Linked DNA regions of Homo sapiens: region 1 is linked to region 2. The links come from fine-mapping of genetic effects on gene expression. A gene starts in region 2. The other region holds a variant in brackets. All regions are shown on one strand. Distances are from middle to middle.

Region 1 (10,085 bases), 32 kb after region 2:
CTTGCCGTGTTGCCCAGGCTGGTCTCAAACTCCTGGGCTCAAGCAATCCTCCTATTAATCCTCCTATTAATCTCCCGAGTAGCTGGGATTGTAGAGACGCACCACAGTGCCCAGTGATACAGTTGTTATACTCTTGAAACTTTAGTTTCCATCCTGTATCCTTCCTGATACCCCCTTCAGTACCATATGCAGTATCTTAATATGATGGTATGTTAAGAAAGATAGAAGATTTTCCCAACTTTGTTGCATAGTCTGTGACAGTCTTCCTGCTATTTAAAAAAAAAAGTGCAAGTGGAAGGATAACTATAAATACTGTTATATTTTCAAATTTGAGAAACCGTTTGCTCTTTGCTCTTAATGAAGAGATATGAGAATAGAGAATGGTTCTTTAGAGTTTGGTCTGTGGTCTGTTTTATGAAGCAATCTGCTTTAATTCCTTCTTCTTAAAAAATACTACTAGTGCCGGGTGTGGTGGCTCACGCCTGTAATCCCAGCACTTTGGGAGGCCAAGGCAGGTGAATCACAAGGTCAGGAGTTCAAGACCAGCCTGACCAACGGGGTGAAACCCCGTCTCTACTAAAAATACAAAAATTAGCCAGGCATGGTGGCACACATCTGTAATCCCAGCTACTTAGGAGGCTGAGGCAGGAGAACTGCTTGAACCTGGGAGGAGGAGGAGGTTGCAGTGAGCCAAGATCGCACGACTGCACTCCAGCCTGGGCAACAGAGAGAGACTCTGTCTCAAAAAAAAAAAATTATCAGCATATCAGTTCAGGTTTAGTTAGAATATTGCTGTCATAGATGTGTTAAGACATTTAAAATAATGTTTTATATTATTTTCCACTAGGAAACCACCCCTACTCCTAATCCCCCGACTACAGAAGAGGAGAAAACGGAATCTAATCAGGAGGTTGCTAACCCAGAACACTATATTAAACATCCCCTACAGAACAGGTAAGCTTTCTAACACCTAGGTTTTCTGAGTTAGGCCACAAGGTAAATTGTGAATGGGGCAAGTTTGAAGGGAAAGTTAGATTATGAGACTAGTTTTAGATATGCTAAGGTTGAGGGTTCTATTTTCACTTGGATGACCCATGACCAGCAGACAGTTTTATGTGTGAGTCTTGAGTTCAAAAGGAGCTATGTGAGAGATTAGTTTGAAAAGTATTGGTCATAATGGAAGCCACATTAGTAAATAAGTTCCCTTAAGGAGAAGTGAACTTGACTCAGGACAAAGACCGGGGATACTAGCATCATATAGGAGGCTTTTGTTGAAGAAGAATGCCTATGAAGGATGGACATACAAAGACAGTGGTGGTCGCCCAACGCGGTGGCTCACGCCTGTAAACCCAGCACTTCAGGAGGCGGAGGCGGAGGCGGAGGCGGGCGGATCACCTGAGGTCAGGAGTTTGAGACCAACCTGGCCAACATGGTGAAACCCCGTCTCTACTAAAAAATACAAAAATTAGCTGGGTATGGTGGCAGACGCCTGTAATCCCAGCTGCTCGGGAGGCTGAGGTGAGATAATTGCTTGAACCCAGGAGGTGCAGGTTGCAGTGAACTGAGATCGCGCCATTGCCTGCCAGCCTGGGCAACAAGAGCGAAACTCCATCTCAAAAAAAAAAAAAAGAGACAGTGGTGGTCATGGAAACCAAGAAGGTGGTTTATTCTAAGATAGGGTGGTTTACAGCACATGTGCTAAAAAGGTCAAATGAAGCAAGATGTCAAAATATCCATTGGATTGAACACTTTTAAAAAAGTCCGTGCTGACTTGGGAAAAAGTTTTTTAGTAAGGTTCCATAGAGTAGTTCCATAAAACATGGAAAAAGAGATTAGGGCAGTTTGAAGAGTGAATAGGAGATATACAGATGTATAGAGTAAGAACAGGTGACTTGAAGTTGGACTGAGAATGAGAAACGAGAGCCAGGGAATGTGGAGTTTGAAGGTTGGTTGGTTTGTAAGTGAGAGACTAGAAAAGGGGACAGATTAAAATTAGTTAAGTTTTCATAGTTAATAGTGTAACAGGAAATTGAGTATTAGTTCATTATATGGCTTTTCCCAACTCTTCCCACTCCTTTCCAGTAGGTTTGTTTTTATTTATTTTCTGGGGTATATGAGAATTAACTTGAGTTCACTGAATGCTGATGGTGGGAAGAAAATGGCAGTTCAGAAACATTGTAACAATCTAGAGGAAAGTAAATTGGAATTAACTTCTGAGGTTCTTGAAGTATTTCAGTTCATTTCTTGTCTTTTTTTGTTTTTATTTACTTTTTTTAGGGCAGACCATTCACTCTCTACTTAAAAGAGTCCACAAGTCTATTTATAATTGTTTCATTTATTAAAATTTTTTTATGATCTCAATTTTTTTAAATGTTTCCTTTATTCATCATGGAAGACCTACTGAAATAAATAGTTCAAATATGCTGTATGCAGTTTTCTCATAGGAGACCCTTTGGTTCAGTATATCCTCCAGTGAGGAACAAATCAGTTTTTTAGACAATGGAGATTCTCAGCTAGTGGGACATCAGAGGTCAAACAGTCTATAAAGGATAAAATCCTTCCTCAGGGAAGCAATGTACCACATGTATTAGGTTGAACAATTCGTTAGAGGCAGTCTTATATAGTTTAACCTAATAGTAGCACCAAAACCCACATTTTTTTTTCATTTTTTTCAGTGATATGAAACAAACTGTATATCTTCTAGCTGTCTGTGAACCTAGTTCTTGGTGTCACTTTTATTGTGGGGAGAAGTAAACAAGGCATATATCCCTCACAGCTTGAATGGAGTCTAAGAAGGGATTCTTAAGTGTCCTCATCAGTTTAAAAAAAAAAAAAAAGTTTAAATCTTAAAATGAAGTCTCTGGGGACTTCAGTTTCTCTATAAATTCTACTTTTTGTGTAAAATAGCAAGTATCATTTGGAAAAATACTATGTTTTATGGCTCCAATTTTGGCAGTTTTCTCATTATTTACTTCTTGCATTTTACTTTCTTCACTCCCCAGAGTAGTCAATGTTAAATTTGGTTTGTATTCCAGAAGTATTAAATGCACATATGTATACTTTTTAATACATACGTCTATACAGTTGACTTTTCTGTTTGTATGTGCATATTTTACCTCATTGTTTTAAACCACCGTCTTGCATTATATTGATATACCACCATATATTTTATTAGGTTTACATTAATGGCTGTATAGATTTTTCTTTTTACACACAGTGCTGTAATTTACATCCTTACATAATTGTGCACTTGTGTGAATATATAGGGTAAAATTTCAGATCTCCTAGAACAAAGATTACCCTTTAACAACCTTTGCGCAGATACTGCCACATTATTCTGTTTTATTGGCTTAGACTTAACAGTTTGAGAGTTCCTGGTTTCTATATCCTTGCTAACTCATGTGATTAGTCTTTTAAGTTGTTGCCAATCAGATTGGTCCCAGTCTGATTTGGGAAAACAATTTCAGTATTTTCAATTTGCATTTTAAAATTGAAGTTTCAAAATATTTTCATATTGATGATTTGTGGTTTTTATCTGAGGACAGATTATTCAGTTCTTCTATTTTTTTTCTTTTGGATTATCTTTTTTTTCCCCTACTTTCAAGCTAACAAGTTATGGAATATCTTTTCAAGTTTATTTCCAAGCATTTTATATTAGAGTGCTAACTCACCCAAGGCAGGGAAGTTGGAGGAGTATTAAGTCAGAAAGAAACAGGTTATCCATATCATTTGTCTTCTAACATTGTCTGTGGAATTGTATGGTTTTTTTTTTTTTAGAGGTCTTTAATTTTCATGTAGGCAAATACTGCTTTTCCTCAGTGGTTTCTGGGTTTCATATCAATTTTAGGAAAACTTTACCACACAGTTAAGCTTTTTTTTTTAAACTTTTTAATAGTTGCATAGTAGTCACTTGCGTGGATGTATGATATTTTATTTAAATCAGCAGTACTCAAGTATTTGGTCTCACAATTCCTTTACACTCTTAAAAATTATTGGTGACTCTACAGAGCTTTATGTGGATTTTTATCTATTGTTATTTACTATATTTTTACAGTAAATAATGCTAAGATGTTATTTTATTTTTCACATTTAAAAATGTATAATTTCACCTGAAAAACTTGAGAAATGTAAAATTATTCGTTTAGAAAATCTATCACATGTTAACCTAAGTGACATTTTGTAATGAAAATAATTATTTGAAATAAAAAATATATAATGGGAAGAACAGCATTTTTGCCATCTGTTTTTTTTTTTTTCGGAGTCTCGCCCTGTCGCCCAGGCTGGACCTCCACCTCCCGGGTTCAAGCGATTCTTCTGCCTCAGCCTCCCTAGTAGCCGGAACCACAGGTGTGTGCCACCATGCCCGGCTAATTTTTGTAGTTTCTAATAGAGACGGGGTTTCACCATGTTGGCCAGGCTGATCTTGAACTCCTGACCTCATGATCCACCCACCTCGGCCTCGCAAAGTGCTGGGATTACAGGCATGAGCCACCGCACCTGGCCGCATTTTTGCCGTCTTAGAAGTCAACTGGATTTTCATAGCTGTTTCTGCCTTCAGTCTATGGAGTTAAGATGTTTCATTGGAAGTATAAGAAGACAATACAGCCTCACACAGGTATTTGGTTGGAAAAGGGAGAATAGTTTTTAAAAGCCTTTAAAAATAATTGTTGATATGCTCCTTTGATACACTACTAGGTTTCTTTTTTCCCCCCCCTTTTTCGTAGGACACATGCTCAAAGAGATACTAGGTTTCTTAGAGGCTAGTTGCAATGTGGAATCTGAAACCATATCCAAGAATTTTTTTCTACTTTGTTACATTAAAATCCATTGGTCTGTCAGTGTCTTGCATCTGGAATGGATCTCTTACCTGTGTAAGATTTTTAACATCATACACTGCTTATTTGGAAAATAATGGTTCAGTGAGTTATGCAGATCTTCCAATGTTGACACATTTTCTTATATAGTATCAAACAATAATAATTCATTAATATTACCTCTAAACTCATTAAGCGTCTTTGATTTTTAGGAAGTTGTCAGGCTTACAGTGGCAGATGAAATCTTTCTAAAATTCTGATTTTTCTACTGAAAGCTTAAATTTTAAGCAACAATCTTAAGTTCAGACAATTGCCTAAATATTGTATTTTGTTTTACAGTAGTGGAAGTGGTTTTTGTGCAGATTATGAAAAATATGGAAATAGAATGAAATTTAATGAAACTGGTAATGTTTATTGCCTCATCAAAGTCATTCCTTTTTTTTTGTTCTCAAGACGGAGTTTCACTTTGTTGCCTAGGCTGGAGTGCAATGGTGCGATCTTGGCTCACTGCAACCTCCGCCTCCTGGGTTCATTCTCATGCGTCTGCCTCCCAAGTAGCTGGGATTGCAGGCACCTGCCACCATGCCCATCTAATTTTTGTATTTTTAGTAGAGACAGGGTTTCACCATGATGGCCAAGCTGGTCTTGAACTCCTGACCTCAGGTGATCCACCCACCTCAGCCTCCCAAAGTGCTAGAATTACAGGTGTGAGCCACCATGCCTGGCCCAAAGGCATTCTTATATGAAACTCACATTATTAGTACTGTGAGAGTTGGTAGTAATAAATGTACAGTGACTACTCGTATAGTTTTGTGTCACTGTCTTGGTTCTTGCTAAGGCACCAGCAGATTTAACTACTGTTGCTTTTGCACCGTTAGTGCAAATGTGAATACTGAAAAGCAAAGTGCCTTCTTAGCATTATTATGAAAATGGATCTTAGGGCCTCCTGCCTGTCTGCAGACCACATTTTGAGAACTGCTGATTTAAATAATTCCTTGTTGATAAGCACTTAAGATGTTTTCAAATTTTCCAAAACTAAAAAC[G/A]TCATTTGTTTGTTTTTGAAGACAGGGTCTCACTCTGTCACCCAGGCTGGGGTGGCGTGTAATCTCGGCTCACTGCAGCCTTCACCTTCCGTACCCAAGCCATCTTTCCACCCCAGCTGGGGCCCCACAGGCATGCACCACCACCATTTTAGTATTTTTTGTAGAGTTGGAGTTTTGCTATTTCCCAGGCTGGCCTTGAACTCGTAGACTCAAGCAATTCATCCACCTCGGCCTCGCAAAATACTGGGATTACAGGCATGAACCAACATGCCTGGCTTTTTTTTTTTTTTTTTTTTTTTTTTTTTGGAAGAGACATGGTCCCATTCTGTCGCCCAGACTGGGGAGCAGTGGCATGATAATAGCTCACTGCAGCCTCAAATTTCTGGGCTCAAATGACCTTCCCACATCAGCTTTCTAAGTAGCTAGGTCCACAGGTGTGCACCACCATGGCTAGCTAAGGTGTTTTTTTTTTTTTTTTTTTTTTTTGAGAGATGCGGGGTCTTGCTATGTTGCTCAGGCTGTTCTCAAACTCCTGACCTCAAGCAGTCCTTTCCCCTTCCCCTTCCATTCCCTGTCCCTGTCCCCATCCCTGTCCCATTCCTTGACAGGGTCTTGCTCTATCACTCACGTTGGCGTGCAGTGGCATGATCATAGCTCACTGCAACCTCGAACTCTTTGGCTCAAGCAATCCTCCTGCCTTGGCCTCCAGAGTGGCAGGGACTATAGACACATGCCATCATGCCTAGCTTATTTTATTTTATTTTATTTTATTTTATTGGAGATGGAGCCTCGCTCTGTCACCAGGCTGGAGTGCAGTGGTGCGATCTCGGCTCACTGCAACCTCCGCCTCCCAGGTTCAAGCGATTCTCCTGCCTCAGCCTCCTGAGTAGCTGGGACTACAGGCGCGTGCCACCACGCCTAGCCAATTTTTGTATTTTTAGTAGAGACGGGGTTTCACCGTGTTGGCCAGGATGGTCTCGATCTCTTGACCTCATGATCCACCCACCTTGGCCTCCCAAAGTGCTGGGATTACGGGCGTGAGCCACTGCGCCCAGCCCATGCCTGGCTAATTTTTTAAATGTCTAGTAGAGATGAGGTCTCACTTTGTTGTCCAGGCTAGTCTTGAGCTCCTGGGCTCAAGTGATCCTCCTGCCTCAGCCTCCTAAAATGCTGTTATTACTGGTATGATCCACCTTTCCTGGCCCCATAGATCTTTATGTGTTTAAATGGCTGGGTGCAGAGGTTTTTGTTTTGAAAAAAGATTGAATTATTTTTAAAAATCCAGCATGTATACTTGACCTCGTTGGTGGTTTTCTTGCCTTTTCTTCTTCTTTTTTATTGATAATGGGGTGGCAGTTGCTGACAAATTATCAAGTACATGTTGAAATGCATCTCATTTTTCTGTCTAGGTGAAGTTACCAAGCATTAATTATAGGATTATGAAATATATATTCAATTTGGAAGGCTCTTCAGACAACATTCGTGTTGATGAGAAAATGAAATTTCCCTTTGACTGCCCTTTGGTATTGTAATTCAGAGAATATTCAGTTTAATTCTTCTAAAGGAGAATCATCTTGGGATAATAACATTTAAGTGTAACTTTAATGTTCCACGAGTTTATCTTCAAGGCATTAGAGAAAATATTATACAGGCGTACCTCATTTTACTGTGCTTCACAAATCATGCCTTTTCTATAAATTGAAGGTTTGTGGAAATCCTGTGTCAAGCAGTTCTGTTGATGCCATGTTTCCAATGGCATGTGCTCACTTGGTGTCTCTGTGTCACATTTCGGTAATTCTCACGATATTTCAAACTTTTATTGTATCTGTTATGATCTGTGATCAGTGATCTTTGATGTTGCTATTATAATTGTTTTGGGGTGCCATGAACATTGGCGATATAAGATGGCAAACTTAATTGATAAATGTTGTATGTGTTCTGACTGCTCCACTGACTGGCCATTCCCATCTTCTTGTCCTTGGGCCTGCCTATTCCCTGAGACACAACAATGTTGAAATTAAGCCAATTAATAGCCCTACAGTGGCCTCTACATGTTATAGTGAAAGGAAGAGTTGCATGTCTCTCACTTTAAATCAAAAGCTTGAAATGATTACGCTTACGAGGAAGACATGTCAAAAGCCAACACAGGCCAAAAGCTAGGTCTGTTGTACCAAATAAGTTAGCCAGGTTGTGAAAGCAAAGGAAAAATTCTTGAAGGAGATCGAAAGTCCTCCTCCAGCAAACACATGAATGATAAGAAAACAAAACAGCCTTATTGCTGATATAGAGTAAGTTCAAGTGGTCTGGGTAGTAAATAAAACCAGCTACAACATTCCCTTATGACAAAGCCTAATCCATAGCAAGGCCCTAACTCTGTTCAGTGTTATGAAGGCTGAGAGAGGTGGGGATGCTGCAGAATAAAAGTTGAAAGCTGGCAGAGGTCAGTTATAAGGTATAAGGAAAGTCACCCCCATAAAAGTACAAGGTGAAGCAGCAAGGGCTGATATAGAAATTGCAGCAAAATCTCCAGATCTAGCTGAGGTAATTGATGAAGGAAGTTTACACTAAAAACAGATTTTCAGTGTAAACGAAACAGCCTTCTACTGGAAGAAGATGCCATCTTCTAGGACTTTGCTAGTTAGAGAGAAGTCATTGCCTAGCTTCAAAGCTACAAAGGACAGGCTGACTCTTGTTAGGGGATCTTGCAGCCAATGACTTTAAGTTGAAGCCAGTGCTCATTTGCCATTCCCAAAATCTTAAGAATCCTGAAGAATGATGCTAAATCCACTCTGCCCATGCTCTAGAAATGGAGCAACAAAGCCTGGATGACAGTGCATCGATTTATAGCATGGTTTACTGAATACTTTAAGCCTACTGTTGAAACCTACTGCCCAGAAAAAAAGTTTCCTTTCAAAATATCACTGCTCCTTGATGATGCGCCTAGTCGCCCAAGAGCTCTGACAGAGATGAATTGTTTTCATGCCTCTTAACACAGTGTACTTTCTGCAGCGTATGGAGCAGCAAAGAGGAATTTTGACTTTCAAGCCTTATTATTTATTAATAAGAACTATATTTCATGAGGCTAAATGCTGTAGATAGTGATTCCTTTGATGGATCTGGACAAAGTAAATGGAAAACCTTCCGAAAGGATTGAGCATTCTGGATGTCATTAAGAACATTCATGATTCATGGGAGGTCAGAATATCAACATGAACAAGAGTTAGGAAGAATTTGATTCCAACCCGTATTGATGACTTTGAAGCGTTCAAGACTTTAGTGGAAGAAGTAACTGCAGATGTGCAGAGAGCAAGAGACCAACAGTAAGAAATGGAGCCTGAAGATGTTACTGAATTGTTGCAGTCTCATGAGAAAACTTGAATGGATAAGGTGTTGCTTCTTATGGGTGAGCAGAAAAAAAGGTTTCTTGAGATGGAATCTATTCCTGGTGAAGATGCTGTGAACATTGTTGAAGTGACAACAAAGGATTTGAATATTACATAAACCAAATTGATAAAGCAACTGCAGGGTTTGGGAGGATTGACTCCAATTTTGAAAGAAATTCTACTATGTAAAATGCTTACAAACAGCATTGCATGCTACAGAGAAATCTTTTGTGAAATGAAGAGTCAATCAGTGTGACAGACTTCGTTGTTGTCTTAAGAAATTGCCACAGCCACCCCAATCTTCAGCAACCACTACTCTGATCAGTCAGCAGCAAACAAGGGAAGACCCTCCATCAGCAAGATTACCACTCTTTGTAGGCTCAGATGATCGTTAGCATTTTTAGCAATAGAATTTTTAATTAAGGTATGTACATTTTTTTTTAGATGTAATGCTATTTCAGACATAATGTAGACTACAGTATAGTGTAAACGTAACTTTTACATGCACCGGGAAACCAAAAAATTTGTGTGACTCTCCTTAAAGATAGTTCCTTTATTGTGATACTCACTTTATTATGATGATCTGGAACTGGACTCACAATATATCCAAGGTATGCCTCTATATATAATATGTTAGGTATATATAAGCTATTATGTATTATGTAGGAATAAAACTATTTTAAGAGAAGTATATACAGATATATTAAAACTGGTATACATTATTTCAGAACATATCTATGCAGCATTACTCAATCTTTATTATTTTCCCAGTTAGGTATTTGATTAAATATAGAATCACATTTAATAGTTTCCCCACTCCTGGCACTCTCATTTCTTCTTGGCTA
Region 2 (10,085 bases):
CAGTCAAAACTATGTATCCTATAAACTAATTCTATTGATGAAAAATTGTCCTGAGGAAATCATCTAAATAGGAAAACACATTTCTCATAAATGTATGCATTAGAACATTATAATAATATAAGACTGGAAATTACCTGAATATGTAACCATTTGGAACTGATTAAGGGAACTGTGATATATCCACTCAGCAGAATATTCTGAAGCCACTAATGTTACCGATGATGTGATGCACCAGGAAGAATACAATATTATTTTTGTAGTATTTCTGTCAAAATGAGTGAAGAAACTGGCAAAATACGAATATTGATTTTATGGTTTTTATTTTAGATAAAACTACTATTATATTTCATGATTTCATTATTTGTATTACGGTGCTGTAAGAAAACGTCTTTATTCATAGGAGGAACATGCTGAAGTATTTAGAGGTAAAGGATCATCATGCCTGCAACTTCCTCTCAAATGGTTCAGAAGTAATGAGATTAAGAGAGGCAATGCAACAAATTAATAATTGGTGAATTTAGAAGGGCTTAGAAGAAGAGTTACTATTACAAGTATTCTGTAAGTTTAAAATTTTTCCAAAAAAAAAAAGTTTAAAAACTGTTATCCCATCTATAGGCAATGTCCAAAATGTTTGCAATAAGATGTCATGTGGAAAAAAATGTAGAATTCAAAATTGTTTGTGCAGGCTGGGGGTGACTCATACATATAATCTCAGAGTTTTAGGAGGCCAAAGCCAGAGGATCACTTGAGCCCAGGAGTTCGAGACTAGCCTGGGCAACATAACAAGATCTTTTCTCTACAAAAAATAAAAAAATGAGCTGGGCATGGTGGCACATGTTTGTAGTCTTAGCCATCGTTCAGGAGGCTGAGGTGGGAGGATCGCTTGAGCCCCAGAGTTAGAGGCTGCAGTAAGCCAGGATTGTGCCACTGCACTCCAGCCTAGTAGTATAGGAATACCCTGTCTCTAAACAAACAAACAAAAACTCTTTGCACCCTATAATTGTAAAAGCATAAAATGTTGGCACACGGATATATTAGAATAGCAGAAGAGGTTTCCCTTAAAAAATTTTTTTCTTTTTCTTTTTCTTGATTTTCTTTTAAAAATCAAGGTGCCTTTTTAGCCAGTAGGTAGTGCCTCAGTCTCATAAAAATCACCAAGGAGAGAGTAAACAAAAAACTAACTAGAATAATAAAATAATTTTTTAAATTCCAATTCTGCTCCAATCTTTTAATATTCAAAATTCCTTGGTCATGTTTGCGTACATCCCATGTTTTTAAGCAATGTCCTGAGTAGGTAATGGGAATTGGTGTCTCTCAAACTGTAAAATTAAAATAAGGGTTCACAGTGGCTCAGGCCTGTAATCCCAGCACTTTGGCAGGCCGAGGCGGGCAGATCACGAAGTCAGGAGTTCGAGACCAGGCTGGCCATCTCTACTAAAAATACAAAAGTTAGCCAGGTGTGGTGGCACGCACCTGTAGTCCCAGCTATTTGGGAGGCTGAGGCAGGAGGATCGCTTGAACCCAGGAAGCAGAGGTTGCAGTGAGCCAAGATCTGGGCAACAGAGTGAGACTGCATCTCGGGAAAAAAAAATTACATTTGAGTTTTCCCCAAATATTTGATAGCAATCTATCTACAAATCATCAATGAGCTAATATTTTAGTAGTAGGGTCAATCAACAACTAATTAAATAATGTTTAACAGCAAGTTTAGAGTTAGGGTTATGAAGTGGCCTAAAGAAAACCAAAGCAGAGTGAGGGGATAAAGAGTAATGGAAACAGTAATTTAGATAGGGTGGTCAAGGAAGCCTTCCTTCAGGAGATCACATTGGAACAGAGGCCTGGATGAAATGAGGGAAGGAAGTATATGATTCGCTCATTCATTATGTGAATGTGTGCTGGTTATGGTGCTTGTTAACTGCATCCTCTTGGTTCTTAGTCACACCTCTTTATATGGGTACTGAACTATTTATATTTCTATGACTTAGTACGCCAACCAGATTTTACAGTCGGGGAAGGAAGTGCCTGTACTTCCTGTGTCCTTTAAATATCCTCCACTGGTTACATAGTTCCCATTACTAACTTAGTACTTGTTGGATGGTTTCTGGTCAGTTCTGTAAATGAACTTGGAATTACAAGTCCTTTGAAGAGCAATAAAGAATAATAGAGAATAAATAGAGAAATAAAACATAAAATTTCAGCTCTATATATTTAGGATTGGCAAAAACAAAACAAAACAACCACATACACACATACATAAAAACCTAATCGTTAAATCTTTGAAATGGTAGAATCTCAAATAGGCAAAGACACATTAATGGTCATAAAACACACACAACAAAGTATATACAAAAATGGAGATTTTCCTGAAACTCTGTGCTTGAAAATTATAAAGAAAAATTGTTGAAAACTATGTAAAAAATGGAAAGAAACTAAACCATAAAGAATAGAGCATCCATAAGTATTGTAAAAGTATGAGTCTTGGTTGACAAGAGGGAGTTTTTTTTTTTTTTTTTTTTTTGAGACTGAGGGAGTGCAGTGGCGCGATGTCCGCTCACTGCAAGCTCCACCTCCTGGGTTCACTCCTTTCTCCTGCCTCAGCCTGCCGCGTAGCTGGGACTACAGGCGCCTGCCACCATGCCCAGCTAATTTTTGTATTTTTAGTAGAGACGGGGTTTCACCGTGTTAGCCAGGATGGTCTCGATCTCCTGACCTCGTGATCCGCCCGTCTTGGCCTCCCAAAGTGCTGGGATTACAGGCATGAGCCACCGTGCCCGGCCCGAGTTTTTTGATTAACAGAAAATTTAATAAAAATGGAAACTGTTGTTTAAAAAAAGTTTTAAGAACATCACTGGCTTTCAGTCCTATAGGTATTTTCTTGCCAATCTCATTGATTTTTTGCTGTTATATAACAGCTTCATGAAAATAGGACATCTGGCCAGGAATGGTGGCTCATGCCTGCAATCTCAGCACTTTGGGAGGCCCAGGTAGGGGGACCGCTTGAGCCCAGGAGTTTGAGACCAGCCTGGGGAACATAGCTAGACGCTCCTGTCTCTGCAAAATATAAAAAAATTAGCTAGGCATGGTGGCCCATGCCTGTAGTCCTAGCTACTTGGGAAGCTAAGGTGGGAGGACCCCTTGAACCCAGAAGGTCAAGGCTGCAGTGAGCCATAATCATGCCACTGCACTCCAGCCTGGGTAACAGAGCAACACCCTGAAAAGACAAAAAGAAAGGAAGGAAGGAAGGAAGGAAGGAAGGAAGGAAGGAAGAGAGAGAGAGAGAGAGAATGGGAGGGGAGGGGAGGGAGGGGAGGGGAGGACAGGGGAGGGGAGGGGAAGAGAAGGGAAGGGAAGGGAGGGGAAGGGTAGGGAAGGGAGAGGAAGGGTGGGGAAGGGTGGGGAAGGGGAAAATAGGACATCTATGCTGTCTTTTTCTCTTCAAAGAAGGTAACCTGACACCACTTCTAACCAGCAGAAAATAACAACGCGGTCAACAGAATTATTTTGGATAGTCTAAGTAACAGTAGATAGTCTCTGTAAGTAGAAATCCACTTATCCGTTTATTATCATTTTTTTTTTTTTTTTGGAAATGGAGTCTCACTGTGTCGCCCAGACTGGAGTGCAGTGGCGGGATCTTGGCTCACTGCAACCTCCACCTCCCAGGTTCAAGTGATTCTCCTGCCTCAGCCTCCTGAGTAGCTGAGACTACAGGCAGGTGCCACTATGCCTGGCTAATTTTTGTATTTTTAGTAGAGACAGGGTTTCACCATGTTGGTCAGGCTGGTCTCGAACTCCTGACCTCAGGTGATCCGCCCGCCTTGGCCTCCCAAAGGGCTGTGATTACAGGCGTGGGCCACTGCGCCTGGCCTGTTAATTCTATCTACTTTAAAACCTAGTAGAGCTAAGCCCACTAGACAAAAGCTTTCATTAATCACTTCTGATATTCAGGTAAACCAAAACATATGAACAGGCAATGGCTTTGAGTTCTCATACAGCCTCAATTATGTGTTAGTCAACTCAAGCATCCATTATGTACTCAATAATAGGTATGACACAGCTCTGGACCTCATTAACACTATAAGCAGACAGGCACAGGCAGCCTGCATACACTCCTTTTCCTGGTGTCAACATTATTTAAAAGCATGGGAAATAGTAATGAGACAGTGTCTTCTTCATTAGAACCTTAGGAGTCTACTAGATTTCTTCATCTCTATTTGTTGTTATTAGTAGCCAAACTGTGCAAAAAACACGGTCTTGAGAAATGACAGCACAGTATCTTAGAGGGAAAGGAAATGTAGGATGCCAGTGTGGGGACAAATTTCTGATTGCCAGTGATTGTTGTGAGCATAACAATAATTTCATGAACATTAAAGCCTCTATTGAGGGCAGCTGCAGTTGTAAAGGAAAAAAAATGGTCCTGAACATTTAAAACTACACTGGTGTACATCATAATCAAACAAAGTAAACAGAAAAAAATTTAAACTTTGCTAAAAAAAAAAAGCAGAAGCACTTGATCTTTAGGAAGGCACGCAGTTGCTTATTATGAATCATTTCTAGAGTCCGATGCATTTTCAAAGCCGGTTACAGTCATTACGAAGCACACCCTTGTGAGGTAAGTGTATCATCACCTTTGGTTCATAAATAAAAAAGCTGAGACGCCGAGCGATTAAGTCACTCGCCTAAGGAGAATGAGTCAACGTCAAGAGTCATAGTTGACCCGGCCTAAAGACTCCAGACCATCAGTCCAGGGCTTAGTCAGCGGGGCCCGGAGTGGCTTCCCTGGCTGGCATCTGGACTTAGGCTATTTCCGTGCACGTAAAAGCGGAATATTGGAACGGTTGCACAGAACTTCCAAATAATTTTTACCGCCACGCAAGATTTAGCCCTGAGGTCTTAATCTCAGGATTTGGGACAGTAAAAGCTGTCGTCCCTCCCCCTCGTCCAGCCGGTGGCAAGCGGGTACTGCGGGCGGTTCCGTCCGTCCCCTTTCGCAGAAATGGCAACGAATGACCACCAGCATTAGCTGAGCCAGGGGACGTGGGAGGGTTGATTGCCTAAACGACTCTGCATCGCCGCCTCTTTTTGAAACTAAGAGAAAATGGTGGGAGATCAAAAGAAAACTAAATAAACACACAGGCAACTTGTCCTGGGACCTCAACTAAGCAAATGAAGCCTTATTGTGTGTGCTGAGCCTGCAGTTCCCAACCTTCCGGGGAAGATGGGAGGACAGGGCGACAAAGGGCACAGTAGGCTTGCCTGGCAGTAAGTGTGACCGCAGCTATCCAGGCGGAAGAGCAGAGGACTGAAACCACCCTCCAGCAAGCGAGTGTCCGCCGCGTTGAGAACCGCGCACCCTACCCATCGGCCACGTGACCAGTCCTTTTTAAAAAAAATTTCTTTACCTTAAAAAAAAAAAAAAAAAAAAGGTGGGGGAGAGACTCCACTTCCCAGAAGCCTCTCGTTACTCACGCAGCCGCAGTCTTGCGCAGGTGCCGCCAGGGCCAAACGGACATATCCGTCACGTGGCCAGAAGCTGGCCAATCCGGTTTGAATCTCATTTTTTTCCTCTTACCCCCCCTTCTGGAGCGGTTGTGCGATCAGATCGATCTAAGATGGCGACTGTCGAACCGGTGAGTATTGCCTTTGGCCCCCACCCCCACGGGTCCCCGCGCTCCGTCTTCCTTCTGACTGGGGGACTCCGCGGGACGGCGTTCCCGGCGCGCACTGTACCCCTTGCCGCCCCTTCCCCTTCATGTTGGACCTGACCTCCCGCGGACAAGTGGGGACGTCCCGGAGGATGGCCGAGGCGGCGTGTAGCGCACACTTTCTGGTGGGGGCCCGAGAACTGGGGGAGCGGTGTGGGGGAGGGGCGGCGTGGCGCCTCCTGCGGAACCGCGAGGTGTCTACAGGGTGGAGGGTAGCTGGGGTTCTGGGCTGGGTATGCGAGGATGGTGTCTTCATGATAGGAAGGCGCAGGGCCGGCTCCCAGCGAGTACTGGGATCCGCAGGCAGGGTGGGCGGCGAGCCGGCCTGGAGTGAGATGGAGGAGGGAGCCCTGGAGCAGCCTTTCCCTCCCTGCAGAACCCCAGCTCCGGGGCTCGGGTGCGGGGCGCGCGCACGTCTTCCTTAGACCGGTGGACTGGGGAGCTGGTGGGCGAGTGTTGCCGGAGGGTGGGTTAGGCGGGAGTGGTGCCGCGGCACGCGCGGAGGAGCTTCGACCTCGCTTAGGGGAGTTGAGAGGGGCGAGCGTCTGTTAATCCAGCGCGCCGGAGAGTTGCCGGTGTTTGCGCCAGGGGAAGCGAGAAAGGTCTGGGGTGGGAAGGAACACTCGTGTGTCACGGTGAAGCTCTCCAAGTAGAATGAGGGATGGTGGTGGTGAGAAGGGGTATCACATTGTCCTCGCCCCTCCATGCTTGGGACTGGGCTGTCATGGAGGAGGGAAGGGGGAGGAGCGAGGCCTACAGATCGCTGTAGCCGGTCGGCTTGCCGGCCGGACCTGCTGCATTTCACACGCGCCCGTCTTCCATTCATTCATCCTTTCCGCGTAGTGCGCACGCCTCAGAGAATGCGAATGGGTCTCAATCCCTCTGTTCTTCCGAGTCTTTATCTCCTGGAAGATTTCTGAGACGCAGTTTATTGGAAATAGAAACTTTTAAATTTACTTTTCCATTTGACTTTTTTTTTCTCTTTATCTATGCTACAGACTTTCATTTCAATTTAGGCACCATTTTAAACTTAACTGAAGCAAGCTGGTCCCAGGGTAGGTTTGTAGTTAATCTTTAAGCAGAGGGTATATTTTTCATAATTTGGGTTTGCCAGGACTGGCTCACTGAAACTTCTGGGCCCTGTTGCCTTTTTAGAAACGACACAGCTAAGTGAAGATATCTTGTGTGCATAATGGGGTTTATTAGCAATCAGAAAACCTTTCACACTCTGGAACCAGCTCTAGACCTTGGTTGCCAGATACTTTTGTGTATCTTTTCATGGTAGCTTGTGGTTTTGCTAATGGTTTACCAGTTTGCTTTGACTTTTAAAGACTTTTTTTTTTTTTTTTTTTTTTTTTTTTTTTTGAGATGGAGTCTTGCTTTGTCGCCCAGGCTGGAGTGCAGTGGCGTGATCTCGGCTCACTGCAACCTCCGCCTCCGGGTTCAAGCGATTCTCCTGCTTCAGCCTCTTGAGTAGCTGGGATTACAGGTGCGCACAACCGTGCCTGGCTAATTTTTGTATTTTTAGTAGAGACGGGGTTCCACCATGTTGGCCAGGCTGGTCTGAAACTCCTGACCTCAAGTGATCCTCCCGCCTCAGCCTCCCAAAGTGCTGGGATTACAGGCGTGAGCCACAGCACCCGGCACTTTTAAAGACTTTTATAAAACTATTTCAAAAACTCTTATAGACTACACAAAGGCTTATTTTTCATTGCGTTGGTGTAAACTATCCTTACCTTGTCAAAATTCAAGGCAGCTTCTCTGCTTGCTTACTTGTTTTTTTATTGGCACCAGTTTTCATTTATGTTCCTGGGAATTAAATTGACTGAAAAACTCATAAGTTGTTGCTACAGTTAACTGACTTTAGGACATTAATATTACATAACACTAATGAAGAATAAGTATGTAAAATATACATTTTAAACCCCTTGACAGGTTCTGATGTCCACTTTTGTCTAGATCTGTTCCTACCCCACTACACTAGTGTCAGTAAAAAGCATTACATCTGGTAATAGGGGCAAGGCTACGAGACTGTAAACTATAAAACAATAAGGAGTTCTGTGAGGTTTCTGTCACATTTAGGTCCCTTGAGTTTTGCAGAGTTTATGCAGTTTTGTTTCAGCAGCACAGAGCGGAACTGCAAAGTGATGAAGGACTATATTTTGAGTTAGTAAATATTAATAGCTCCTGATATATCCAGGGTGTTGTACCAAGTGTTCTTTAGGATACAAAGTTATACAAGATGTGAGTCTTGTTGAATGTAAACCCTTAAGGAACTTAATTCCTAGGGATGTGGTTAGTGATACAGTATTTGTTCTGGTACAGACTTTGGGAGATTTGGATGTTATGTTTAAATTTGGGGAGTAGGGGAACCTAAAAACAAAGTGTGTGAAGCTGGAAACTAAAGTATTTTGAGAATATATGTAAAATAGTATCGAAGTGTTTAGTTTTAGTGAGAAATGAATTTTTTTTTTTTCGATACTGACTTTCACTCTTGTTGCCCAGGCTGGAGTGCAATGGCGCGATCTTGGCTCACCGCAACCTCCGCCTCCTGGGTTCAATCGATTCTCCTGCCTCAGCCTTCCGAGTAGCTGGGATTACAGGCATGTGCCACCACGCCCGGCTAATTTTGTACTTTTAGTAGAGATGGGGTTTCTCCATGTTGGTCAGGCTGGTCTTCAACTCCCGACCTCAGGTGATCCGCCCGTCTTGGCCTCCCAAAGTGGTGGGATTACAGGCATGAGCCACCGCGCCTGGCCTGAAAATTTTTAGTACTTTTAATATACCCTTGTGCACAGGCTAGTTATGTGGAATTATTTTTGACAGTTTTAAATAGTTGGATTTTGTGTGTAGGGGTGCAGGATCTTGCTCTGTTGCTGGGGCTGGAGTGCAGTGGCGCGATCATAGCTCACTGCAGCCTCAAACTCCTGGGCTCAAGAGATGCTTCCATCTCAGCCTCTGGTGTAGCAAGCACTACAGGAGCAGGCCACCACGCCCGGATAATTTTTAAACTTTTTGTAGAGATGGAATCTCGCGATGGTTACCCAGGCTGGTCTCAAACTCCTGGACTCAAGTGGTCCTCCCACCTTGGCCTCTCAATATGTTGGGTTACAGGCGTGAGCCACCGAGCCTCGCCTGGATTTTTTTTTGAAGCAACTGATTAGAATTGGATTGTACTTGAGATACCCCTGCTGAAGGCTGCAAAAATCATGTTTTTTCTTACTTCAGCTAGTTTGTGAGCTTCCATAATGGTTTTCTGCTGTGCATAATCATAAACACTTAAAAAGAGCCATGGGCTTTTCCTGCTTATCCCATCATGCATAGGTATCTGGATGATTTTTGTCTATGGACATTACATAAAATATCATTTTCAGTTTGATATTATTGTGTGGTTTTCTCTTTGTATGAGTTGAGTTACATGAAGATGTGGCCCACAAATATTAAATTTGTTGAGAAGCTTGAAAGGGAAAATTAAGGGAAACATTTTACCTCTTAACGGATAATTTGGCAAAAATTTGAACGTTAGGGCAAACGGTACTCTGATGTTATTCTATCGGCATTTGAATTGTGGCTGGGTCAAAATTAGGTTTAATATTAGTCTGTGAAAATGGCAAGGCCATCTTACCTCCAGTAGGTCGTGTTTCTTTGTAGCTTTATCTTCATTCTACATCGTTCATTATTAGAATTAAAAAAATTTTTTTTTGACTTGTAGTTCCTTTTGAGGTAAGAGATTAATTTTGATTTCTTTAGCTTAACTGAAAGTGTATAATTTTACTTGTTTTTACATTGTAGCTCTTGAATTTTTTGAAACCACGCTAATTTCATAAGTGAATCAACTTGGACAATCAGCTAATTTAATGCTTCCTTTTTTATACTTTGGAAACATGCTCTGTACTACACAGCTTATTAATAAGAGTAAATAAGGTTTATATACATATTGACAAATATTTGTTGTACTATATAATTCATATTAATGAACAATTGAATGCCAACCAGACTATGCAAATTAGTGGACTTTTTGCTTAATGAAAGAACCCACTATATCAGAGTTCCTCGATAATCCACGTAAATTTGGCTCTGGGGTTCATATTCCAGATTTCTTCAATTAAAAGAAAAAAATATACTTGCTGAGTGCGGTGGCTCACGCCTGTAATCTCAGCACTTTGGGAGGCCGAGGCGGGTGGGGATCACTTGAGGTCAGGTGTTCGAGACCAGCCTGGCCAAAATGGTGAAACCCTGTCTCTACTAAAAATACAAAAATTAGCCAGGCCTGGTGGCAGGCGCCTGTAATCCCAGCTACTGGGGAGGCCAAGGCAGGAGAATCGCTTGAACCTGGAGGTGGAGGTTGCAGTGAACCGAGATGGTACCACTGTACTTCAGCCT

Alleles and levels. Positions count from the first base shown, and alleles are read on the strand shown. Sizes are in standard deviations (SD) of each study's normalised expression.
For the expression in pancreas of the gene that starts at base 5,589 in region 2, allele G in region 1 goes with a higher level than allele A (small effect, 0.38 SD a copy in GTEx).

What was found.
Region 1: its variant is fine-mapped to the expression of EIF4E in pancreas (GTEx, PIP 0.99).

What each region holds. Positions count from the first base shown.
Region 1 is chr4:98,892,745-98,902,829 of GRCh38, reverse strand. EIF4E (eukaryotic translation initiation factor 4E) reads left to right here. Exons shown (of 7, transcript NM_001968.5): 2 at 848-954. Among named protein-coding and RNA genes, the nearest start is that of EIF4E, 31 kb to the left of the region's middle. The variant G/A (reference allele first, on the strand shown) is at 5,858.
Region 2 is chr4:98,924,637-98,934,721 of GRCh38, reverse strand. EIF4E (eukaryotic translation initiation factor 4E) reads left to right here and starts at 5,589. Exons shown (of 7, transcript NM_001968.5): 1 at 5,589-5,627. The coding sequence starts at 5,610. RefSeq lists a silencer at 2,041-2,090 and an enhancer at 3,996-5,195.